Homo sapiens: one gene and its partner. The protein of the gene in region 1 purifies or fractionates together with the protein of each later gene. This does not show direct contact. Each region holds a gene or a part of one and is shown on either strand. Other genes may lie near its edges.

Evidence for each region. The genes of interacting proteins can lie anywhere in the genome.
Region 2: the proteins of SMCO1 (region 1) and MAPK8IP3 purify together in Homo sapiens (affinity purification with mass spectrometry; 2 studies listed by BioGRID and IntAct, with this or other methods). This does not show direct contact.

Annotation. Positions count from the first base shown.
Region 1 is NC_000003.12:196,512,547-196,516,546, forward strand, and holds the start of SMCO1 (single-pass membrane and coiled-coil domain-containing protein 1), read right to left. Parts: upstream 2,801-4,000; 5' UTR 2,664-2,800; coding exon 2,614-2,663; exon of another isoform or gene 2,584-2,613; coding exon of another isoform or gene 2,558-2,583; intron 1-2,557.
Region 2 is NC_000016.10:1,761,695-1,765,194, forward strand, and holds part of MAPK8IP3 (C-Jun-amino-terminal kinase-interacting protein 3), read left to right. Parts: intron 1-656; coding exon 657-787; intron 788-980; coding exon 981-1,037; intron 1,038-1,141; coding exon 1,142-1,312; intron 1,313-1,962; coding exon 1,963-2,089; intron 2,090-2,420; coding exon 2,421-2,516; intron 2,517-2,606; coding exon 2,607-2,765; intron 2,766-3,318; coding exon 3,319-3,484; intron 3,485-3,500.

The sequences.
Region 1 (4,000 bases):
CTGTCGCCAGGCTGGAGTACAGTGGCACGATCCTGGCTCACTGCAACCTCTGTCTCCCAGGTTCAAGTGATTCTCCTGCCTCAGTCTCCCGAGTAGCTGGGATTACAGGCGCCACCACATCCGGCTAATTTTTGTATTTTTAGTAGAGATGGGGTTTCACCATGTTGGCCAGGCTGGTCTCGAACTCCTGACCTCAGGCGATCCGCCCACCTCGGCCTCCCAAAGTTCTGGGATTACAGGCGTGAGCCACCGCACCCGGCCTAGAGATGTATTTTCAATATGTTTTGTGCATCTCCACAAAGATGGAGATGTCAAACTCAACTCTCCTAAGCTTAACCTACTAATACCTCCCCCATCTTCAGAAATTACTATGAAGAAATGTTGTCACTGCTTTACACATAGATAAGACTCAGTATAAAATGTTCATTTTGTAGGAATAGAAGCCTGTGTGACCTGATATGCCTGTAATTTCTGTCTACAAGTCAAAACCATGTGATTTGAGCTAGGTGCAGTGGCTCACAACTGTAATCACAGCAGTTTGGGAGGCCAAGGTGGGTGGATCACTTGAGTCCAGGAGTTTGAGACCAGCTTGGGCAACATAGTGAGACCTCATCTCTACAAAAAATAAAAAATTAGCCTAGTGTGGTGGTGTGCACACTTGTGGTCCCAGCTACTGGGGAAGCTGAGGTATGAGAATTGCTTCAGCCCAGGAGTTCAAAGCTGCAGTGAGCTGTGATCATGCCACTGCACTCAGCTTGAGCAACACAGCAAGACCCTGTGTCAAAAAAAAAAAAAGAAAGTTGGCCGGGTGCAGTGGCTCACGCCTGTAATCCCAGCCATTTGGGAGGCCAAGGCAGGTGGATCATGAGGTCAAGAGATCGAGACCATCCTGGCCAACATGGTAAAACCCCTTCTTTACTAAAAATACAAAAATTAGCCGGGTGTGGTGATGCACACCTGTAGTCCCAGTTACTCAGGAGGCTGAGGCAGGAGAATCACTTGAACCTGGGAGGCGGAGGTTGCAGTGAGCTGAAATCGCGCCACTGCACTCCAGCCTGGTGACAGAGTGAGACTCTGTCTCAAAAAAAAAAAAAAAAAAAAAGCCATTTGGCATACTATTTTGTGTTAACTTTTAGACCTTTAAGACTATATTGCTTATAGGTCATCTGTAGTTTGAAACTTAGGGAAGAAGTCTAGCTTGTCAATCAGTATAAAAATTTACAGTTGCAGCAGTTCTTTGGAATCCTCTCACCAAAGGACAGTCCGAGGCCGTTCCAGATAAATCTCAACCAACATGCAAATCTCAGCGCAGGCTGTTTTGTTTTGTTTTAGTACAGTTCCCTAGTTTCGTTAATGACCTCACCATCCAATCAATTGCTTGAACTAGAAATCTCAGAATAATTCTCAACTTTTTTCTTCCCCTGATTTATGTCTCTCTAACCCATTCCTGCCTCTCCATCTCCATCAAATGAGTTTCTCATCATCTTTCACTAGGACCCAAGATTACCGTAGCCTAACTGGACCCCCGTTTTCCATTTCCCATCCATCCTCCAGACACATTCTTCTAAAACACAATTCCGATTCTGTGACTCAACTGATTACAAATGGTTTATGTCATCCTGGCTTGCCCAGTGATATACTCAGAGGCAAACTGGATCTCCTCAGCAGGAAAGTCAAGGGCCTTCACCCTTTGCTCCTGTCTTCCACCAGTCCCCTCACCCATCCTAGTTACCAATTACACGAGACATCTAGTTGCTGCTTGAATACATTATGTGGTTCCAAGCTTACATATGGCTTATATGCACTGTTTCCTCAGCCTAGAATGCCTTCCCATATTTTTCTCCCTCATAAGCTCCTACTTGCACTTTAAGATCCAGCTTAAATGACCCTATATGAAGAGTTCCTTTTTCTAGTGTCAAAGGCAAAATTGGTTGATCCTCCCTTCATGTTCGCATAGACCTTTAGGAACATCACCATTGTAAGGTCAGTCACATTAAATTGTAAATGTTTTTCAAACTTTTCTCTTTCCTACAGGCTGTGAGCTCCTTGAGGGCAGAAACCACATTTTACTTATTTTTGTAAATCTAGGATTTAGCATATGCATACATTCAATGGAGTTACAGCACCTGGGAGCAGACTTTTCTTTATTGTTAATTTACATAGGTTTGGGCCTGGAAGACTTAAACCACTGTAATAGAGACGGAATTCTTTTTTTGGACGGAGTCTTGCTCTGTTGCCAGGCTGGAGTGCAGTGGCACGATCTCGGCTCACTGCAACCTCCACCTCCCGGGTTCAAGTGATTCTCCTGCCTCAGCCTCCCAAGTAGCTGGGACTACAGGCGCCCGCCACCATGCCTGGGTAATTTTTGTATTTTTAGTAGAGGCAGGGTTTCACCATGTTCGCCAGGCTGGTCTCAATCTCTTGACCCTGTGATCCGCCCACCTCGGCCTCCCAGTGTGCTGGGATTACAGGTGTGAGCCACCGCACCGGCCACAGAGACAGAATTCTAATGAGCATGTCTGCAGTTCTTTATTTCTATTCTTCATTCTTCTCTTACCCATCTTCCCAGAATAGCAGACCCATGCTTGCTCCCTCCCTATAGCCCTCAGCAACCTTTTCATTGCCTCCTTCAAGGATATCAGGGTTGTGGTTTCATTGTTCATCTTCTGAAGGCAAAAGGAAAGAAAACAAAAACAAAGCAAAACAAAAAAAGCAATAAATGTTTGAATCCAGAATTTTCTGCGGTCTTCCTCTCAGCAACAGGCAGCAGTAGCAGGAGCGCTCAGTCTACATTCTGCCTGAAAGGTCACTCAGTACAAGAAGCTTTTAATAGCCTGCAGATCCAAATATAGTTTCAAAGAACTTATCTCGTGGACACAGGTGTCCTGGAATGCACTATAACATTTGCCTTTGAAAACTGAACCATAGTACATTAACATACAGCAACAACCATGTATAATTAATGACTGTGTACATTATGGTAAATGTATATACAGATACATTAACGTAACGTATAGGATTAAGTTTGATGGAAATATTACTGTCATATTTTAACTGCTTCATTATTCAATTACAACCTAAATTAGGTTTGAAGAGTGCCCCAGATCTTTTATGATGATGATATCAAAGCAAAAAATCTAACTATCATTAGAAACTACTAAATACTTGTTATGGCTGGGTATGGTGGCTCACTCCTGTAATCCCAGCACTTGGGGAAGCCAAGGTGGGAGGATTGCTTGAGCCCAGGAATTCAAGACCAGCCTGGGCCACAGAGCGAGACTGTCTCCACAAAAAATACAAAAATTAGCCAGGAGTGGTGGTGCATGCCTGTAGTCCCAGCTACTCAAGAGGCTGAAGTGGGAGGACTGCTTGAGCCCAGGAGTTCGAAGCTGCAGTGAGCTATGATCATGCCACTGCACTCCAGCCCGGGCAAGAGGATAGGATATATATATATATATATATATATATATATATATATATATATAATTATATATAAAATTATACATATAATTATATATAATATATAATTTATATCGTATATAAAATATATATATAATTTTATATAATTATATATATATTAGATTAGGAATTGAATATAAATGTGGAAATAAAATAGGACTGCTGTTTTCATGAGATTTAAAATCTAGTTGGGAAGAAAGAATATATCCTTAAATAGAAAATGTATATGGGATGTGTGCTAAGTAGATAGAGACCATAAAAATAATAGAAGGTGAGAGACTAAGTCACTGAAATCTTGGGTCCTTGGGGAGATATTCACCCTGAAGGTGGTACTTGGCTTGGCCTTAAAGGTCAAGGTCTTTGATTATCAGAGAAGAGTGTTAAGGGTGTTACGAACTGGAGAAATTGTGTGAGCAAAATCACAGAGGTGGCAAAGTAAATGATGTGTTCAGGAAACAATGAGTAGGTATGTTTTGAGCAAAAGATTCATATAAGAAAAAGAAAATAACCACACCATTTAAACTGGTAAGAGCCATGTCAC
Region 2 (3,500 bases), on another chromosome or scaffold:
TTCACCATTCCCAGGCGGGGCGGCCACTGTTCCCACACATTCACACGCCGGGTGACCACTGTTCATACGCATTCACACGTGGGGCAGCCATCATTCCCACACATTCACACGCTGGGCGGCCACCATTCACCATTCACCATTCACACACAGTATATCCTACTATTCACACTCGGGGCATGGGGATGCGGGGTGCCTCCCGGGGACTCACCGGCGCTTCTGTCTCTGTACAGAATCAGTATATCCCACAATTCACATGCAGGGCTGGGGTGGGCACGGGCAGGGGGCCCAGGCGGGCTCCTGGGGACTCGCCGGCTGTTCTGGGCTGACAGCTCTCCCACCCCTCCTGGGTGACACCTGACCCCAGCGGCATCATCTGCCACCCCACTCCTGAGACCACATGGAGTCAGAATCAGGCCCTTGGGCAGGACCACAGCCCTGGCAGGATGCCGGGTCCCCTGTCAGCACCCAAGTCCTGGTGCATGCCTTTTGTATGGTTCCCCTCCCCGCTTGCCGACACCCCTCCACACCGCTTCTTGCCTGAGGATCTGAAGGAAATTGGCACTGAGATCCACCTATACGTGTAGGCACCCCAGGAGGAAGCAGGTGTCACCCGGCCTCCGAGGGCTGGCTGAGCCTCTGTGCCCCTCCCTCCGCAGGACAAAATCCCCATGGCCCAGCGCCGCCGCTTCACGCGGGTGGAGATGGCCCGTGTGCTCATGGAGCGGAACCAGTACAAGGAGCGGCTGATGGAGCTGCAGGAGGCTGTGCGGTGGACTGAGATGATCAGGTGGGAGTTGCGGCCACCCCAGGAGGGGCTGCGGGATCATCCCTGACGGCAGGACTGCGGCTCCCTCCTCTGCACCTCCCTGTCTTCTGGGGGGACTGAAGTGCGCTGGGTGCTTCCTGGCGGGAGCCAGAGAGTCGCAGGTAAGGGAGGCGTGAGGGCACTAGCAGGTTGCTCCCTGTGCCCTCCCCTGCAGAGCGTCCCGAGAGCACCCATCCGTCCAGGAGAAGAAGAAGTCGACCATCTGGCAGTTGTAAGCTGGGGGCCCCTGGGGGATGTGGGCAGCAGCTGCAGGGGAAGGGGCAGGGAGGTTCCCTGGTCCTCTGCCCACCCCTCACCTCCCTGTGCCTCTGGCAGCTTCAGCCGCCTCTTCAGCTCTTCCTCCAGCCCCCCTCCGGCCAAGCGCCCCTATCCCTCGGTGAACATCCACTACAAGTCACCCACCACTGCCGGCTTCAGCCAGCGCCGCAACCATGCCATGTGCCCGATCTCGGCAGGCAGCCGGCCCCTGGAATTCTTCCCTGACGAGTGAGTGTCCCGCAGCCCCCACTTGTGGCCTGCAATGGGGTTGGGGAGGCCCTGTCCTGAGGCTCCTCCCCTCCAGGCCCTGAAGCGGGACTTTGAGGGCAGCCTCCACCTTGCTGGCCACATGCCAGGGGCCGTGACCTCTCCCTGCACACTGCCTGCCCCTCCCTGCAGCGGGGAGCTGGGCTGCTTTGGCTCCACGGTATTTGGTTCAGGATGTCCCTTGGCAGAGGCTGTGCCCACCAACAGTCAGGGGGCTGTGCTGGGCTCCACGGTGGCCTCTGCAGCAAGGAGCCGTTTCAGGCGTCTGTCCAGCAGGGAGTCGCTGGTCATGCCTGTGCCCCGGCGGCACTCCAGGTCCCGGTCTGTGGAACCCTCAGTGACTGTGGCAGCAGAGCAGCCTCTGGGTCGAGCAGGGGCCAGCTGTGGCCTCCAAGCCCAGGGGCATAGCCGGTGCCAGGAAAGCCACCCTTCCCAGCTGGGCACCCAGTGCCGGGAAAGCCACCCTTCCCAGCTGGGCACCCGGTGGCCGGGAAAAGGCGAGGATGGGCCCAGGCGGGCCTCCCTGCCGTGACCTCCCCCAGGACAAGCCTGGGGCACTGTGGGGGCCGCTCACCCTGGACAGAGACATCACCCATCATTCTTCCACTCAGCGACTGCACGTCCTCCGCCCGTCGAGAGCAGAAGCGCGAGCAGTACCGCCAGGTGCGTGAGCACGTGCGTAACGACGACGGCCGTCTGCAGGCCTGCGGCTGGAGCCTGCCCGCCAAGTACAAGCAGGTGCGGGCGGGCGCTGCGGGGACCGGGCGGGGCCCCGCAGAGGCGGGGCGGGGGTAAGGGGCGGGGCGCTGTGGGGCGGGGAGAGGGCGGGGCAGTGCTAGGGGGTGGGAGAGGACGGCGGGTGGGGCGGGGCCTGGCAGGTTCCTAGTGAGCCTCCTGGGCAGGGGTCTGGAGGGTCGGAGAAGGAGCCCCGCGGCTCCCACGCCCCCACCTGCCTCCAGTCTTGAAGTGGCTGTGCCGCCAGAAGCTGGCAGCCCTACCTGTCTCAGATTTCTGGAGGGATGGGTAGGAGCCAGGGTTCGTGCCCACGGCGCCTCCCTGCTCCCTGCAGCTGAGTCCCAACGGGGGCCAGGAGGACACGCGGATGAAGAACGTGCCGGTGCCGGTGTACTGCCGCCCTCTGGTGGAGAAGGACCCCACCATGAAGGTGAGCCCGCGAGGACCCCGCTCAGGCTGGCTGGGCGAGCGGGAGGCTGGGGAGTGCCGGTGACACCCGACCTCGGCCCTGCCCTTGCAGCTGTGGTGTGCCGCGGGCGTCAACCTGAGCGGGTGGAGGCCCAATGAGGACGACGCTGGGAATGGAGTCAAGCCAGCGCCAGGCCGCGATCCCCTGACCTGCGACCGCGAAGGAGACGGCGAGCCCAAGAGCGCCCACACGTCTCCCGAGAAGAAGAAGGTGAGCATGGCCGAGGCCACCGGGCACCCTCCCTGGCTTAGTCTCAGGACAGCTCAGCTGCAGAGCATGCTGGGAGTGAGACACAGGACAGCTGGGGACAGCACCCGGAAGCAGGGCAGCGCAGGGGCTCCTAGACTGCGGGAAGCAGTGTCTTCCCTCACCAGGACTGAGCCGCCTTCTGGGTTTTCAGTTTTCACCCCCCAGGTGGCCTGGAGTGGGCCTGCACTGGGCTGCAGGGGTCAGGCAGGCAGCAGGCACAGAGGAGCCCAGGAGCGGCAGAGCTTGCCTCCCAGTGGTGGGAGGCTTAGTTTTATGCCCAGCTTGGGCCTCTTGGAGCTCAGGGGCCTCTTCTGTGGAGGCGAAACCGTGTCTGTGAGTGCTTTAGAGTGCAGTCCTGAGTCCGCATTGTTCTGGTCCTGGGGGAGGACAGCCATGTCCCCTCAAGCTGTAGTCAAGGCTGGATCCTGACAGATTCTGGGAGCCCCATGGCCCTGTGCTGCCACCGGGTAGCCTCAAGCTCGGGCTCTGACCTTGATCCCGTGCCCTGAAACAGGCCAAGGAGCTCCCTGAAATGGACGCCACCTCCAGCCGGGTGTGGATCCTGACCAGCACCCTGACCACCAGCAAGGTGGTGATCATCGACGCCAACCAGCCGGGCACGGTGGTGGACCAGTTCACCGTCTGCAACGCGCACGTGCTGTGCATCTCCAGCATCCCCGGTGAGCAGCTGGAGTG